3 separate regions of the Homo sapiens genome follow, and all the other regions are linked to region 2. The links come from fine-mapping of genetic effects on gene expression. A gene starts in region 2. Each other region holds a variant in brackets. All regions are shown on one strand. Distances are between the middles of the regions. Region 1 has its middle 12 kb from the start of SLC31A2. Region 2 holds the start of ZFP37 (ZFP37 zinc finger protein). Region 3 has its middle 19 kb from the start of ZNF883.

Evidence for each region. PIP is the estimated chance that this variant, and not a neighbour inherited with it, causes the effect. A credible set is the group of variants that fine-mapping cannot tell apart.
Region 1: its variant is the best candidate, but not a certain one, in a credible set for the expression of ZFP37 in lung (TOPMed, PIP 0.51).
Region 3: its variant is the best candidate, but not a certain one, in a credible set for the expression of ZFP37 in monocytes (TOPMed, PIP 0.57).

The regions. Positions count from the first base shown.
Region 1 is chr9:113,136,189-113,141,271 of GRCh38, reverse strand. No RefSeq gene overlaps it. Among named protein-coding and RNA genes, the nearest start is that of SLC31A2, 12 kb to the left of the region's middle. RefSeq lists a silencer at 2,742-2,937. The variant A/G (reference allele first, on the strand shown) is at 3,019.
Region 2 is chr9:113,054,566-113,059,648 of GRCh38, reverse strand. It overlaps ZFP37 (ZFP37 zinc finger protein), which reads left to right and starts at 2,925. Exons shown (of 4, transcript NM_003408.3): 1 at 2,925-3,092. The coding sequence starts at 2,961. RefSeq lists an enhancer at 2,725-3,294.
Region 3 is chr9:113,028,576-113,033,658 of GRCh38, reverse strand. No RefSeq gene overlaps it. Among named protein-coding and RNA genes, the nearest start is that of ZNF883, 19 kb to the right of the region's middle. The variant A/G (reference allele first, on the strand shown) is at 2,990.

The sequences.
Region 1 (5,083 bases), 82 kb before region 2:
CGTATTGTCATTGATAACATCTTATCAGGAGCAGGGTTTGAGAGCAGACAACCAGTCTGACCAAAATTTATTAGGCGAGAATTTCCTCATCCTAATAAGCCTGGGAGCGCTATGGGAGACTGGGGCTTATTTCACCCCTACAGCTTCAACCATAAAAGACAGCCGCCTTCCGAAGCGGCCATTTCAGAGGCCTACCCTCAGGGACACATTCTCTTTCTCAGGAATGTTCCCTGCTGAGAAAAAGAATTCAGCGATATTTCTCCCATTTGCTTTTGAAAGAAGAGAAATATGTCTCTGTTCTGCCCAGCTTACCAGCAGTCAGAGTTTAAGGTTATCTTTCTTGTTACCTGAACATTGCTGTTATCCTGTTCTTTTTTCAAGGTGCCCAGATTTCATATTGTTCAAACACACATGCTCTACAAACAATTTGTGCAGTTAACACAATCATCACAGGGTCCTGAGGCAACATACATCCTCCTCAGCTTACGAAGATAACGGGATTAAGAGATTAAAGTAAAGACAGGCATAGGAAATCACAAGGGTATTGATTGGGGAAGTGATAAGTGTCCATGAAATCTTCACAATTTATGTTCAGAGATTGCAGTAAAGACAGGCATAAGAAATTATAAAAGTATTAATTTGGGGAACTAATAAATGTCCATGAAATCTTCACAATTTATGTTCTTCTGCCATGGCTTCAGCTGGTCCCTCCATTTGGGGTTCCTGACTTCCCGCAACAGTAAACCCAGTGTCTCTGAGATTAGACTGAGCTATGAGGTTCGTTCTTCTTTATTGCTAAGTAGGGTTCCACTGTGTGGATATATTTTTCCTGTCAATGTATATTTGGGTTGTTTCCAGCAACAATAAACTCTCATGTACAAGTGATTCTGTGGATATATGCTTTCATTTTTATTCAGCAAATACCTAGGAGTGGAATTGCTGTGTCAGTCTATTTTCTCTGACACTCAGAGGTCCTTTGCAATTCTTAGAAATACTGCTTTATTAAAAAACGTGATTACTTAAAATGACAAGTCATCACCATAGGGCCTGGAGATTTCCTGGAGCACAAATGCTTGTGATCCTTTAATTATGTTGAAGGGCTCCATTCCAGCACATGAGGCGGTATATTCAGCGCTCTATTGTAGTTTCATGATAGCTTGGGGTAGGCACAGAAAACCAGAACAAAGAAAGAATATGACCTTCACACAGAACTGTATAAAACTTCTCAGAGTAATTATCATTTGAGTCGAGCAATGGAAGACACTAAAATCACTTGATCAGTATAGTCCTTTGGAGAGAAGACTCGGACAGGACTAAATAAGGAATCAAAAACAATAGTTTGGGTCTTGGCTAAGCTGTGTCCTGTGTGACCTTATATAAAGTCATTCAACAGTCTCTGCATCTCAGTTTCTAGCTTGTAAAATGGAGATGAAATCTTGTGAGATGATGACAGATATTCTCTGTCCCCTGCACAGGGATTCTGTGGGACAAGGTAAGATAAAGTCTGCCTAAGTCTCATCCTGGATAAACTGTAAAGTGCCATGCAAAATGAGATAACATCATGTGAAGAGAGGCAGGAACTCACACAGAGCTTGTTTTGTGCTCCGATGACTGGCACTGATTGTCACAAGAACTCAGCTGCCCTTGTTTCAGGGACATTGAACAAGGTCAAACACAGTGACAATAACTCTTTGTGAGCTGCCAGTTGGGCCCGGATGTCCCTCTCCATTGTGTTCATCTCTGCAACGGGGGACTGTTGGGCTCTGGATTCTTCTACATCTGTAGGAGAATCTTTCCCAATGGCACAGCTACCTTCCCACCCCCAAACAATAGGCCCTCAACTCTCTCGGTCCTCACTCATCTTTATTTACCCAACCCATTCTCAGTTCCCCACTGCAGGTGACAAAAAGTTGAATGTTTTATGAAAAGTCTGTTTGGGGTAGTTCTAGCCAAAGATGTCATGGATAAATCTTAAATGGATATAGGAGGTAGTGCAGGCAGCATCATATAATGGCTGTTATTGATTGAGTGTTTACCTGTAAGTGCTAAGGGCTCACAACTACCCTATGAGTTGGGCAGTATGATTAGCCTCAGTTTACAAATGGTGAAATGGAAGCAGTTTTATGGGAAGAACTCAGGACTAGGAGTCTTAGAATCTGAGGGTGCCACCGTTGTCACTACCTGGGCCTGTTTCCTTATCAATAAAATGACAGTGAGGATTATCTTCTTTTAATCTCTGACATCTTTTCTAACACTGACATCCTGTGAGTCCATGTTTGACTCTGGGTGAGTCATACAGCCTCTCTGAAACGCTTTCCTCATCTGTAAAATGAGAGAACCATCACAACCTGGCTGCTCTTTCCCAAAGTGCCATTGTGACAGTGCCCGGTAAGGAGGGAATTGTGCTGAGATGCTAAGTGTATGTCTCTGTTTTCTCTCCAAGGGACCTGAGCCCATAAAAAATGAAGGGTACCTGTGATAAGCAGAAATCAGGCACTGCCTTAGAGGCATTTGCTTGGTAAGGAGTGAATAAATAACAGAGATTGTGAGACATTTTGATATGAGAAAACCTTGGGGATCATTGTGTTAAATACTTTCTATTTGATAGTAGAGAAAACTGATGCCAGAAAAGATAGTGCCTTCCCTGAAGACACTTAGAGGGCAAAGGAAGAGCTGGGGCTGCAGCTCTGGTTCACTGACTTCAGGTATTCTGGTCTATCAGGAACACTTCCAAGCTTCTTCTTCTTCTTTTTTTTTTTTTTTTTTGAGACAGAGTCTCCCTCTGTCACCCAGGCTGGAGTACAGTGGTGCGATCATAACTCACTGTAACTTCCAACTCCTGGGCTCAAGCAATCCTCCTACCTTGGCCTCCCAAAGTGCTGGTATTACAGGTGTGGGCCACTGTGTCCAGCTGAAGCTTCTTACCCTCCAGACACTGACCCAATGTGAGATCTAAATCTCCAACAGGACACCACAGTGGGGACAATACTTTGGCCCCAAACTTTTGAAAGGCTGAGG[A/G]GGGTCATTTTCCATTCCTGTCCCTTTTTAGGGACAGTACAGAACATCTGTTATGCTCTATGAAAGAAAGCACAGTGTGAGCTCCACACCTGCACTGTTGCCCTTCTCTGAGGTTCTTGGATTTAGTGGGAGCCTTTATTCAAGCTGGGATCTCTCCTAGGAGGCAGCCTGTTTCCTCAAGTGTGACTTTCCAGGCGTGGCTCTGCAGATGAGCCTAGGTCAGTGGTACAGCAGAGGGAGGGAGGAGCGCTGGCCTGGGATCAAGGGACCTGACCTGCCAAGGACCAAGCAGTACTGGTGGCAGAGCAGAGCTGGAAGCCAGCTCTGATTTCATCACCACAAGGTCTCCACCTGCCTCTGACTGCTTCACCATTGTACCTATTCCCACACCAGTGCCATGCATTGAGGGCAGCTGAGAGTGTCCGAGGAGCAGCGAGGGTGAGGGAACTGCTATTCAAAGGCAGATTTTGCCTGGACTGTCAACTTTGGTAGGTCTGAACTGAACATTCCCTGGAGATGAACCAGAAGTTGAGAGACAGGGCAGGCTACTGGCACTGTCTAGACTGGCTTGGCCAGTGTAATCAAGGATCATAATCTTGGCTTCTGAGATGCTTCAGAGTTCAAACATTCCTTTTCTGGATTTTTGCAACCTGGATTCATAGACTTCCGGGTGTAAAACAGCCACAGAAGTTATATGCAAAACTTTATGTGCGTCAGTGCAGGGGCACTTCTCTCTCTCGAGAGGATCCATAATTTTAATCAGATTCACAAAAAAGAAAAGAGCAGCAATTCCTGCATTAAATATCTCTGAGCAAAGGAGAGAAATGATCTCAGAGGGTTGTGCAAAGATCATCTTGACAATTCTTCCAAGAAGAATGAAGTTCTACCAGTTTCCTTTTTCTTCTCAGAAAAATGGGCTTTGTGAAAGATAGGGTGTAAATATTTAAATTTCAACAGCTGTTTAGTAAAAGAACATGCTTTTTTTAAAAAAAAAAAAAAAAAACAGGGTGTCGCTATGTTGCCTAGCTTGGTCTCGAGCTCCTGGGCTCAAATGAACCTCCTGCCTCAGCCTCCTGAATAGCTGGGATTACAGCACGCACTACTGTGCCCAGTTTAGGAATCTACTTTTCATCTGCATTGTCTCACTGACTGTCCCAAAAGTGATAGTCCACAGAGGCTAAACAGATTTTCTAGGTTGTACAATTTCTAATGACCAGTTTCCAGATCTTCTGACACCTGCTAACAATCTTTCAACTCCAATTCTGAGACCTGGGCTTGTCCTCCCGCCCTGGGCTGCAGCTGGCCCTCCTTGTCCTGATTGTGAAGCTGAACCAACTCTTCTCTTACATAAAAGATACCAAGGAGGGACTGGCCTCCATAGGGTCTTGCTGCTGAGGTGTTTGGAACACTCCTGAGTTAAGAAACACTGAGCTGCGGCCTGAAGTGCCCAGCATGGCAGTGGCAGTTTTTTGTTAATATTAAGAACTATCTCCCATGCACATGGAGAGGGGCTGCCTGTGTCCCTGAGACAGAGATGTCCTCATATGCATGGTCTGGATGGGCACCTGGGAAGGGAGGGGTGAGAAGGGCCACAGAGCCTGTGTCCAGTGCCTGGGCCTGTCACAGCTTACACAGCTACTGGTGCCACCTGGAAACAGAACAAGTTTCCTGGCTCCCAGACCACAGAATTTCCCCTCCCACCAAACTACCCCTCTGAGGTGTCTTCCCTAAACTACTTGAGTAAGCCCAATAGTTGGAAGAATGACCCTCGATCTCAACTTCCACTCCACTCCTCTACTTTCCGTGTCATTTGAGGAATGTGTGAGTAACCTCTGGGGTGCGAGAATATCCCCAGTGGAGAAAAAAAGACAAAATAAGATCATGATTTTAGCTGAACCCACTTAGTTTTATGAGTAAAAGTGTCCTTTATTTCTAAAACAGTATTCTAGAGCAGATGAGATACATTCACATACTTTTAAAATATCTATTGAGCGTACCTATGTGCCAGCACAGGTACGTGATTAGAATTCAGTGGTGAATGCAGCATTTACAGTCCCTGTCTTTG
Region 2 (5,083 bases):
TGGAGTGACACCCGTGTAGAGACTGAGCCACGTGGATTCGCGGAAGTGGGGGTGGGGGCTTGGGGCGGTACCTCACCATAGGGGATTTCCAGGGGAAAGTGAAATGCCCTCGGTGTAGGTCATTCGTAGTGGAAAGGAAAATGCCTGGTCCCTCAGCTTCTTCGTGTGTCCCAAGAAATGTCCTCAATATTTCCAACCTCTGCCCCCAGGGTCAGGAAAATATTCCTGGCAGGTTTTGGTGAGCCTCTGGAATCTCTCCGCCATTCCGCGTTTGCACCCTCGGCTTTGGCAAGGATGAACTGCATCCACGTTTTTGGAAATCAGTCGTCATGTGTTTAATGACCCTTGTGGCTACCTCTTCGAGGTGTGTGTGTGTGTGTGTGTGTGTGTGTGTGTGTGTGTGTTCATGCCAGCGTCCTATGTCTTGTAACTGAAATCTGGGAACTTGTCTCCCTACCCTGTGATGATCACCTGGGGAACTTTGGAGAAGGAGGTGGAAGGGGAATGTCCCACTTCGTGTCTTGGAACAGGTGGCTTCTTTCTTGGGAAAAGAGGTGGGATGGAGAGAATGCACCCGAGCTCTTCAGAAAGGACCTGCACTGATTGGTGATAGGCAGCATGGGCTCAGGAGAGCAGGGAGAGTTAGGGGAGACACCCACGTGCCTGGAATAGTGGAGGGCCATTTGGAGCAAGCCTCAGATGGAGAGCCACATATCGAGGTGTTCGGTCAATCCTTGTGAACCAGAGAGTGTTCCTACGAATGCTAGAGTCTCATAGAAGTAATGTCTCTTTTACGTTTTTTTGCCTGATTAATATTTTCTTCCCCTCCCGGTGCCTTCAAGTATGAATGACAATAAATACCATACATATTTACCGTGTGTGACCTCTTCATTAGGGAATTCACTAGAATCAGCCGAATTCACACAGTTATCGCCGCACTTGCTTCCCCTGTCCCTGTCGGGAGAATTTTCAGGTCTACTCGAATGAATATACTCAACAGTACAACATTATGTTCTGATCCTCCGTACTAACTCATCCCTACCACATATATATATATGTGTATATATATGTATATATATATGTGTGTATATATGTATATATATGTGTGTATATATGTGTATATATGTATATATGTGTATATATGTATATATGTATATATGTGTATATATGTATACATGTGTATATATGTGTATATGTATATATATGTATATATTATGTATATATATGTTGGTTTCAAGAAAATCCTTGAGAAACTGAACTGCCCCTCTTTCTGATTTGTGAGGAAGAAAGGAAAGGAGAGGTATTGAAAAAAATATTGTACCTTTTTACGACTCTAATATCAGGAACAATTAAAGTCAGGACCATATCTGAGGCAGAAACAAAGCAATTGCCTATCCGTACAAAGGTGACGCTCAAAGAATACTCTGTCAGGAACACAGTGTAGGGGGCCGTGTCTTAAGTAGGTGAAGAGTAATTTCAAGCCATCAATTATTTTTCAGTCTTCACTGAGTCCTTAGTTTAGTATTGCTGGATAACAAATTATCACCAGCTTTAGTGGATTAAAGTATCACAAACCTATTATCTCACAGATTCTGTAACCTGGAAGTCTGTGTATATCATGGTTAGGGTGATGGTTAATTTTATCGGTCAACTTGACTGGGCTAAAGGATGCCCAGAAAACTGGTGAAACATTGTTTCTGGGTTTGTTAGTGTGTTTCTGGGAAAAGATTAGCATTTGAATTAGCAAACTGAATAAAAAAGCCCCCACCAATGTGGGTGGCCACCACCTAATCCACTGAGGGCCTGAAAGGACAAAAAGGAAAAGGAAGGGTGAATCCTCTTTTCTATTTTTTTTTAATCTTTAACTTTTGTGGGTACATAGTAGGTGAGTATATTTATGGGGTACATGAAGTAGTTTGATACAGGCATGCACAGTGCAATAATCACATCATGGAAAATGGGGTATCTATCCCCTCAAGCATTTATCTTCTGTGTTACAATCCATTTATACTTTGTTATTTCGAAATGTACAACTAAATTATTATTGGATATATACACCTGTAGTGCTATCAAATACTAGGTCTTATTCCTTCTTTCTTTTCTTTTTTTTTAAAAACCCGTTAAGTATCCCCACTTCCCTCCCACCTTTTCTTTTTTCTTGAGCTGGGACATTCATCTTCTGCCTTTTGACATTGGAGACCCTGGTTTTCTGGCCTTTGGACTCTGGACTTACATCATCCCTACCCCTCTCCACTCTTTTTCCAGTACCTTGCATAGCGCAGCACCTAACCTGCACATATTCAATGAATGCAATTAATGCATGAAATGGCGCATTAAGGAATTATTTCTCCAAGTGCTTGATTATTCTGGTGAAATATCTTCACCAAACCCGGGCTCTCACGGAGGAGTGGTGTGTTTACTTAAGTTTCTGTTTCAGTTTTTCTTATTGTTCTTATACTATATATGAAAAGATTTATCGTATATCTCAAAGATTAACGTCCTCTCCCTATAAAATAATGTTATTTGTTCGATCAGGCTTTTCTCCGTTATGCTTCCAATTTCTCGCATCCTGCCTTTCTAAAGTCCGCACTAAGCGTTGTGATTCCCGGACTTCTAGCCGCTGGCCGCACTGACATGTATTCGGAAAAGCAATTCCAAATTCTGTAAAATATCTTCCGGCAGTGATGCGATCCGAACTCCGGCAGTGGGTTGTCAGGCCCAGGTCAGTCCTGTAGTGCGTAACGGAACTCGGTTCCGGCTGGCTCTGATCGCATCACTCCTGCATCCTGCAAGTAACGCCCTCGCCAGCTTCCACCTCCCGATCTAATTGTCCCAGAAGTCCCCGCACTTCCGCTGTACGGCTGAGTGTTTGCCAAGATGGCCGCGCCCGTGCGCTATTACCGAAGGGCGCCGCCATCGCGGCTGCCGGACCCGCTAAGGCCGCCCTCCGGGTAGCCGCCATGTCGGTCTCCAGCGGCGTCCAGATTCTGACAAAGCCAGAGACCGTGGACCGGAGGAGAAGTGCGGAAACGACCAAAGAGGCCGGGCGACCACTGGAGATGGCTGTGTCCGAGCCCGAGGCCAGCGCCGCGGTGAGAGCTGTGATGAGACAGGGTGTTTTGGCGGTCAGAGATGGTGTACTTGCGGGGCAGTGATTGGAGTAGTCTGTGACGATAGGTGATTTGGGAATTGGTGGAATCGATGCTAGATGGTCTTTTGGGAGGTCGGTGTTCTGAGTTATCTGTGGGGTTAATGATTTGGCTTTAGGATATCAGTATTAGGAGGGATCTGCAGAGACAATGATGGGGAGGCGTCTGTGGCAGTCACCGAGTGTCGGAGTTTGGAAGGAGATCAGAAATGGAGGCTTTGTGATGTGTCAGAGATAGGGAAGGACCGTGGGGGTTGGCGGTTTGGGATGTCTATGGGAGCCAGCGATTATGGGTGCCTGTGGTGGTTAGAGCCTGGGTTATCAAAGAGGGTCAGTGTTAGGATTTGGGAAATTCAGTGATTGGGAGCATCTGGGAGCATCAGAGATTGGGGCTTGGGAGTCAGTGACGGTGATGTCTGTGGAAGTTTGATTAGCAGTATCTTTGAGGGTCAGTGGGTAATGGAGGAATCGGGGGGCCAGTGAGGGGGGAATATGACTGTTGGAGTTTGGGGAGTCAATGTTGAGGTGTCTCTGGGGATGGTAGATGATTTGTATGTCATCTGGGGAGAAAAGGTAATTGGGGATGTATGCAGGTCAATAATTAGGTGGTGTCTAGCAGTAATAACTGTGCTTTGAGTAATGAGGTGATTAGTAGGAATTAATGATTGAAGATCCTCTATGATTCTGTGACTAGAAGTCTAAGGGGGTCAGGAGTTTGAGGGGATTGCTGCATTTAATGATTGAGGGTTCTTTGGTGGTCAGTGATTGGAGATCTGTGGAGGTTAATGATTGTTCTGTGGAGAGTGATAGTTGGGAACTTGCAGAGATCCATAATTGGGAGAAGTTTGTGAAGGTTAGTGATTGGGGAGTATTTGGGTGTCAGTGATTGAAAACTTGCAGGAACAGTAGGAACAGTCTGTAAGATGAGCATTTATTTTATGCCAGGGGGTATTTTTTATTTTATTTGTTTGGTGTTGTTGTTTTGCAGTCCCTGCTTTGTCCTCAAAACCAGGGAATGTTTTAAATGCTGGAGACACACCAGGAAACAAAACCAGAATCCCTCCCTCAATGACTTACATTATAGAAATATGAAAGATATCATAAAATATAAACAAATAAAATTATTCCAGACACTAATAAGTGCTGAAGTAAGTAAAAGAGGATGGTGTGGTACAGAGTGATTGAGGGTAGGGAGTGCATGACTTTAGCCAGGTTAGTCATGGAAAGCTTTCCTTAGCAAATGACAGTTGGGTTGAGGCATAAATCATCACAAGGAGGCAGCCATGCAGAGATCTGAAGAAAGAGTGTTTCAGGAAGAAATAAACATCAACTGCAAAGGACCTGGGGTAGGAGTAAACTTGGTGTGCTTAAAAAAGAGAAGGAAGATTAGTGCTGTTGGAGCACAGTCAGAGGGAAAGTAGAAAGCTGTGAATCATAGTGGTAGGAAGGTATCAGATAATGTAGGATTTTATTGGCTAGTGTAAGGATTTGGATTTTATTCTAGATGCAGTGAGAAGCCATTGAGTTTAAGCAGGGGAATGATCTGTTCTGACTGACACCTTGAAAAGATCACCATGGCTACCTCATGGAAGACGGACTGCAGAGGGGCAAGAGTAGGTAGATATAGGGAGGTCAGTTAGGAACTTTTTGCAATAGTCAAAGACAAGAGATTATGGTGATTTAGAATAGAGTTGTAGCAGCAAAATGAAATCAAATTCAGAATACATCTGGAGATAAGCAATAGAACTTACTAATGTATTGATATATGGAGTATGAGGAAAGAGAAGAATCGAGATTTACATCTAGACTTTTAACCTGAAGAACCGGATGGATGGTGATTCTATTTTCTGAATGGAAAGGGTTATGGTGGAAAAGACTAGATTTGGTGGATGGAAATGGGATCTGGGGTGATGTCAGTGGCTCTATTTTGGCCGT
Region 3 (5,083 bases), 26 kb after region 2:
CCATATAAAGTCTTTGATTCAACGCATACATTGTGCAGGAAAGTTTTTGTAGGGAAAAGAAAGAGAGATCAGATTGTTACTGTGTCTATGTAGAAAAGGAAGACATAAAAAACTTCATTTTAATCTGTACTAAGGAAATTGTTTTGCCTTGAGATGCTGTTAATCTGTAACTTTAGCCCCAACCCTGTGCTCACAGAAACATGTGCTGTATGGAATCAAGGTTTAAGGGATCTAGGGCTGTGCAGGATGTGCCTTGTTAACAAAATGTTTACAGGCAGTATGCTTGGTAAAAGTCATCACCATTCTCCATTCTCAATTAACCAGGAGCACAGTGCACCATGGAAAGCCTCAGGGACCTCTTGGGCTTTCTTGGTCCTTTTTTCTATTGGGTTTTTGATCAATCCCTTTATAATTTTCTGAAGAAATGTGTTTCTTCAATAATAATTTAAAATTTGACTTTGTTTTTGGTTCCACTGTGAATTTAAAATTTGTTTATGTAATCAATTTTTGTTTTCTTGATTTCTCTTGTTTTTGATCTCTTGTGTAGCTTGGAAACTTCCTCCTTTATACCCAGGGATCACTGTCCACTAGGAATTCACTCTCTTATAGGCCTTTTACTTCTCCTTTTCTTCTGTAGTTTTCTTTGCTTAATCTCTGACCCGTTTAAATCATCTTGAGCTTTCCCACATCAGTCTTTGACCTGCTTAAATTCTCTGAAATTAAAAATACCATCTTGTAACCTGCATTCTCATCTTTCTTTCCCTCAACACACAAGCTTTTGAAAACTGATACTATCTTGGTGTTTCTGCTTCCTCAGTTCACATACACACTTCAGTATCATGCAGTAGAGCTTCTGTGTTCATCATTACTCTGAAACAACTTCTATAATACGAAGTCCATCTTGCTGTTATCAAATCCAAGGGATATTTTCTTGTCCTTAACTTAGCAGATTTTTTTGTTGCATCTAACATTTAATCCTCCACTCTTCCTTGAAATATGTCACCATTTGTTCTTTTGACGCCGCCTTCCTTCATCTTCTGCTCCCTCTGTTTCTCCTTTATTTCTTTCATCAGCACCTCTTTCTCTTCTTATCCTTTGCCAGTTGGTATTTTCCAGGGCTTCATCTTTTGTGCCTTGCATTTCCTTGTCTGTGTGGTTTTCCTGATTGATTACATCTCTTGTTTATAATAATCTATAAGAATCGCCTCTTTTAGATGTGTCTTGATCGTATTTGACTAACTGGAGACAATATTTGGATTCTAAATTTGATTGCAGTAAGTAGCATAATAAAATACATTTGTGTTGCAGTAAGTGCACATATGCACACGTCTGCAGCACATAAGATTTGTTGAAGCGAACTAAATATGGCCTGAGAAGGATTCTGTACTTCTGTGTTTGAGTCCTTGTGGATAAACTGTAACCTAGCTTAATAGGCAGACAAGATTGAAAACCTAACTTAGAAGTGTGGGCCTGTAACAATAGCTGAGTCTTGGCCAATCCCAGCAGCCGTACTTCAACCACGCATAGACTGCTAAGTGTTCAAACTGTGTTCAAATAAGGCAAATGCCAACCTGTAACCAATCCAGCTATTTTTGTACCTCACTGCCAGTTTCTGTATGTCCCTTCCCTTTTTTTGTCTGTAAATTTGTTCTGACCATGAGACATCCCTGGAGTCTCTCTGAATCTGCTGTGATTCTGGGGGCTGCTTGATTTGTGAACCATTTACTGCTCAATTAAACTCCTTTTAAATTTAATTCAGCTGTTTTCTTTTAACAGATTTGATATATATTTTTTCCTCATATGCATAATACCATTTTCATGTAATGAAATTTCCATTTAATACCTTTTCCATGTAATACCATTTTCATGTAATGTCTGATTCTTGCCTCCTCTCACCTTATATCTAGCTGGGAGTGGAAGGAAACATGGAACAGAACATCCAACACACCATGATCATCCCGGAGTTTTTGGACAGTAAGAATTACTTTCATTGTTTAAAGTAAGGTAGACATCATACACTAGTGGAGTAACATTTAAAAATTCACCAGAATGCATTTGTTTATTTCCAATTTTTTATGTGGTAAAATACACATAACATAGAATTTACTATCTTCATCATTTTTAACAGTACAGTTCAGTGTTACTAAATGTATTCATAATGTACAACCATCACCATTCTCCATCTCCATTACTCTGTTCCTCTTATAAAACTGAAACTCTATACCCATTAAAAAATAACTCCTCATCCTCCCTACCCTCCTGCTCCTGGAAACAACCATTCTACTTTCTGTCTTTATGCTTTTGCCTAATCTAAGTGGTATATTTTGAATGTGTGCCTCAAAATTCATGTGTTGGAATTTTGGTCCCTGGGTAGAGGTGTTGGGAGATGGAGCCTTTAAGAGGTGATTAGGTTGTTAAGAGGAATTAATGCCACTCTCCCGGGACTGGGTTAATTCTTGCTGAAGTGAGCAAGTTCTCACTCTTACAGGACTGAATTACTAACCACTAAAGCCAATTGTTATGGAGCAAGACCTCCCCTTGTGATTTGTGCCTTTCACATGCACTCATTTCCTCTTCCACGCCTCTGCCATGTTATAATGCAGCACAAGATCTCCCCAGAAACTGACCAGGTGCTGACACCCAATATTGGACTTCCCAGCTGCCAGAACCAGAACCCCTTGTGATAGTTTGCTGAGAATGATGGTTTCCAGCTTCATCCATGTCCCAACAAAGGACATGAACTCATCTTTTTTATGGCTGCATAGTATTCCATGGTGTATATGTGCCACATTTTCTTAATCCAGTCTATCATTGATGGACATTTGGGTCTTTGCTATTGTGAATAGTGCTGCAGTAAACATACATGTGCATGTATCTTCATAGCAGCATGATTTATAATCCTTTGGGTATATACCCAGTAATGGGATAGCTGGGTCAAGTGGTATTCCTAGTTCTAGATCCTTGAGGAATCGCCACACTGTCTTCCACA[A/G]TGGTTGAACTAGTTTACAGTCCCACCAACGGTGTAAAAGTGTTCCTATTTCTCCACATCCTCTCTCCAGCACCTGTTGTTTCCTGGCTTTTTAATGATCACCATTCTAACTGGTGTGAGATGGTATCTCATTATGGTTTTGATTTGCATTTCTCTGATGGCCAGTGATGATGAGCATTTTTTCATGTGTCTGTTGGCTGCATAAATGTCTTCTTTTGAGAAGTGTCTGTTCATATCCTTTGCCCACTTTTTGATGGGGTTGTTTGATTTTTTCTTGTAAATTTGTTTAAGTTCTTTGTAAATTCTGGATATTAGCCCTTTGTCAGATGGGTAGATTGTAAAAATTTTCTCCCATTCTGTAGGTTGCCTGTTCACTCTGATGGTAGTTTCTTTTGCTGTGCAGAAGCTCTTTAGTTTAATTAGATCCCATTTGTCAATTTTGGCTTTTGTTGCCATTGCTTTTGGTGTTTTAGTCATGAAGTCCTTGCCCATGCCTATGTCCTGAATGGTATTGCCTAGGTTTTCTTCTAGGGTTTTTATGGTCTTAGGTCTAACATTTAAGTCTTTAATCCATCTTGAATTAATTTTTGTATAAAGTGTAAGGAAGGGATCCAGTTTCAGCTTTCTAAGTATGGCTAGCCAGTTTTCCCAGCGCCATTTATTAAATAGGGAATCCTTTCCCCCATTTCTTGTTTTTGTCAGGTTTGTCAAAGATCAGATGGTTGTAGATGTGTGGTATTATTTCTGAGGGCTCTGTTCCATTGGTCTATATCTCTGTTTTGGTACCAGTACCATGCTGTTTTGCTTACTGTAGCCTTGTAGTATAGTTTGAAGTCAGGTAGTGTGATGCCTCCAGCTTTGTTCTTTTGGCTTAGGATTGTCTTGGCAATGTGGGCTCTTTTTTGGTTCCATATGAACTTTAAGGTAGTTCTTTTCCAATTCTGTGAAGAAAGTCATTGGTAGCTTGATGGGGATGGCATTGAATCTATAAATTACCTTGGGCAGTATGGCCATTTTCATAATATTGATTCTTCCTATCCATGAGCATGGAATGTTCTTCCATTTGTTTGTGTCCTCTTTTATTTCATTGAGCAGTGGTTTGTAGTTCTCCTTGAAGAGGTCCTTCATATCCCTTGTAAGTTGGATTCCTAGGTATTTTATTCTCTTTGAAGCAATTGTGAATGGGAATTCACTCATGATTTGGCTGTTTGTCTGTGAAATTTAATGTATTTCTATGTAATCCAAAGTCATTTGTAGGCTTTAAAAGTGTAGTTTTCTATAAAGTGGTAAGAAGGGCACCAGAATAACACAAAAGAGGGCAGCAAAGTGGCAGCTGACAGGCTTGCCATGCTACACACTTGAGTAGTTCTGCACATGGAACTCCTGTTTACACACTTCTGTTAGTTTTAACTCAGTACAGTATTGAGACAAATACTGTTATGCATAGCATAAGTTCTTTGTTTCCTTGTGGTGATCACAGTGAATTTTTTAAAGCTTTTATTGGATGTTTCTGCCACACAGGAATTTTGTTAAGCAATTTAGCATATACTTCTTTAATTTTAAAAACAGGGTCTTGCTCTGCCACCCAGGCTGGAATGTGGTGGCACAATCATAGCTCACTGCTGCCTCAGCCTCCTGGGCTCAAGCCTCAGATTGTGAAATAGCTGGGGCCACAGGTGTGCATCACTGCACCCAGCTATATATTTTTTTATTTTTTTGTAAAGATGGGGTCGCACATTGGTGCCCAGGCTGATCTCAAACACCTGGGCTCAAGCAGTCCTCCTGCCTCATCCTCCCAAAGTACTGGGATCATAGGTGTGAGCCACTGCACGTGACCTATACTTCTTATTTAATTATTACAAATCTGTGGTCTGTGAGGTACAGCAAATCTGTGAGACTGGCATTTTCTCCATTTTGTAGATGAAGCAAGTAGAGCCCAGGAAGAGTCCCTGCCCCCGCTAAGGCCACATGGCTAGTAAGTGTAAGATGGTGCTTCAGACCAAGTTTTTAGCCCCCACACTGTTCTGTTCCACTGGGCACATGGAAGGATAGGTGCCACATCACCTCAACTCCAAACGTTATTGAATTTAATTT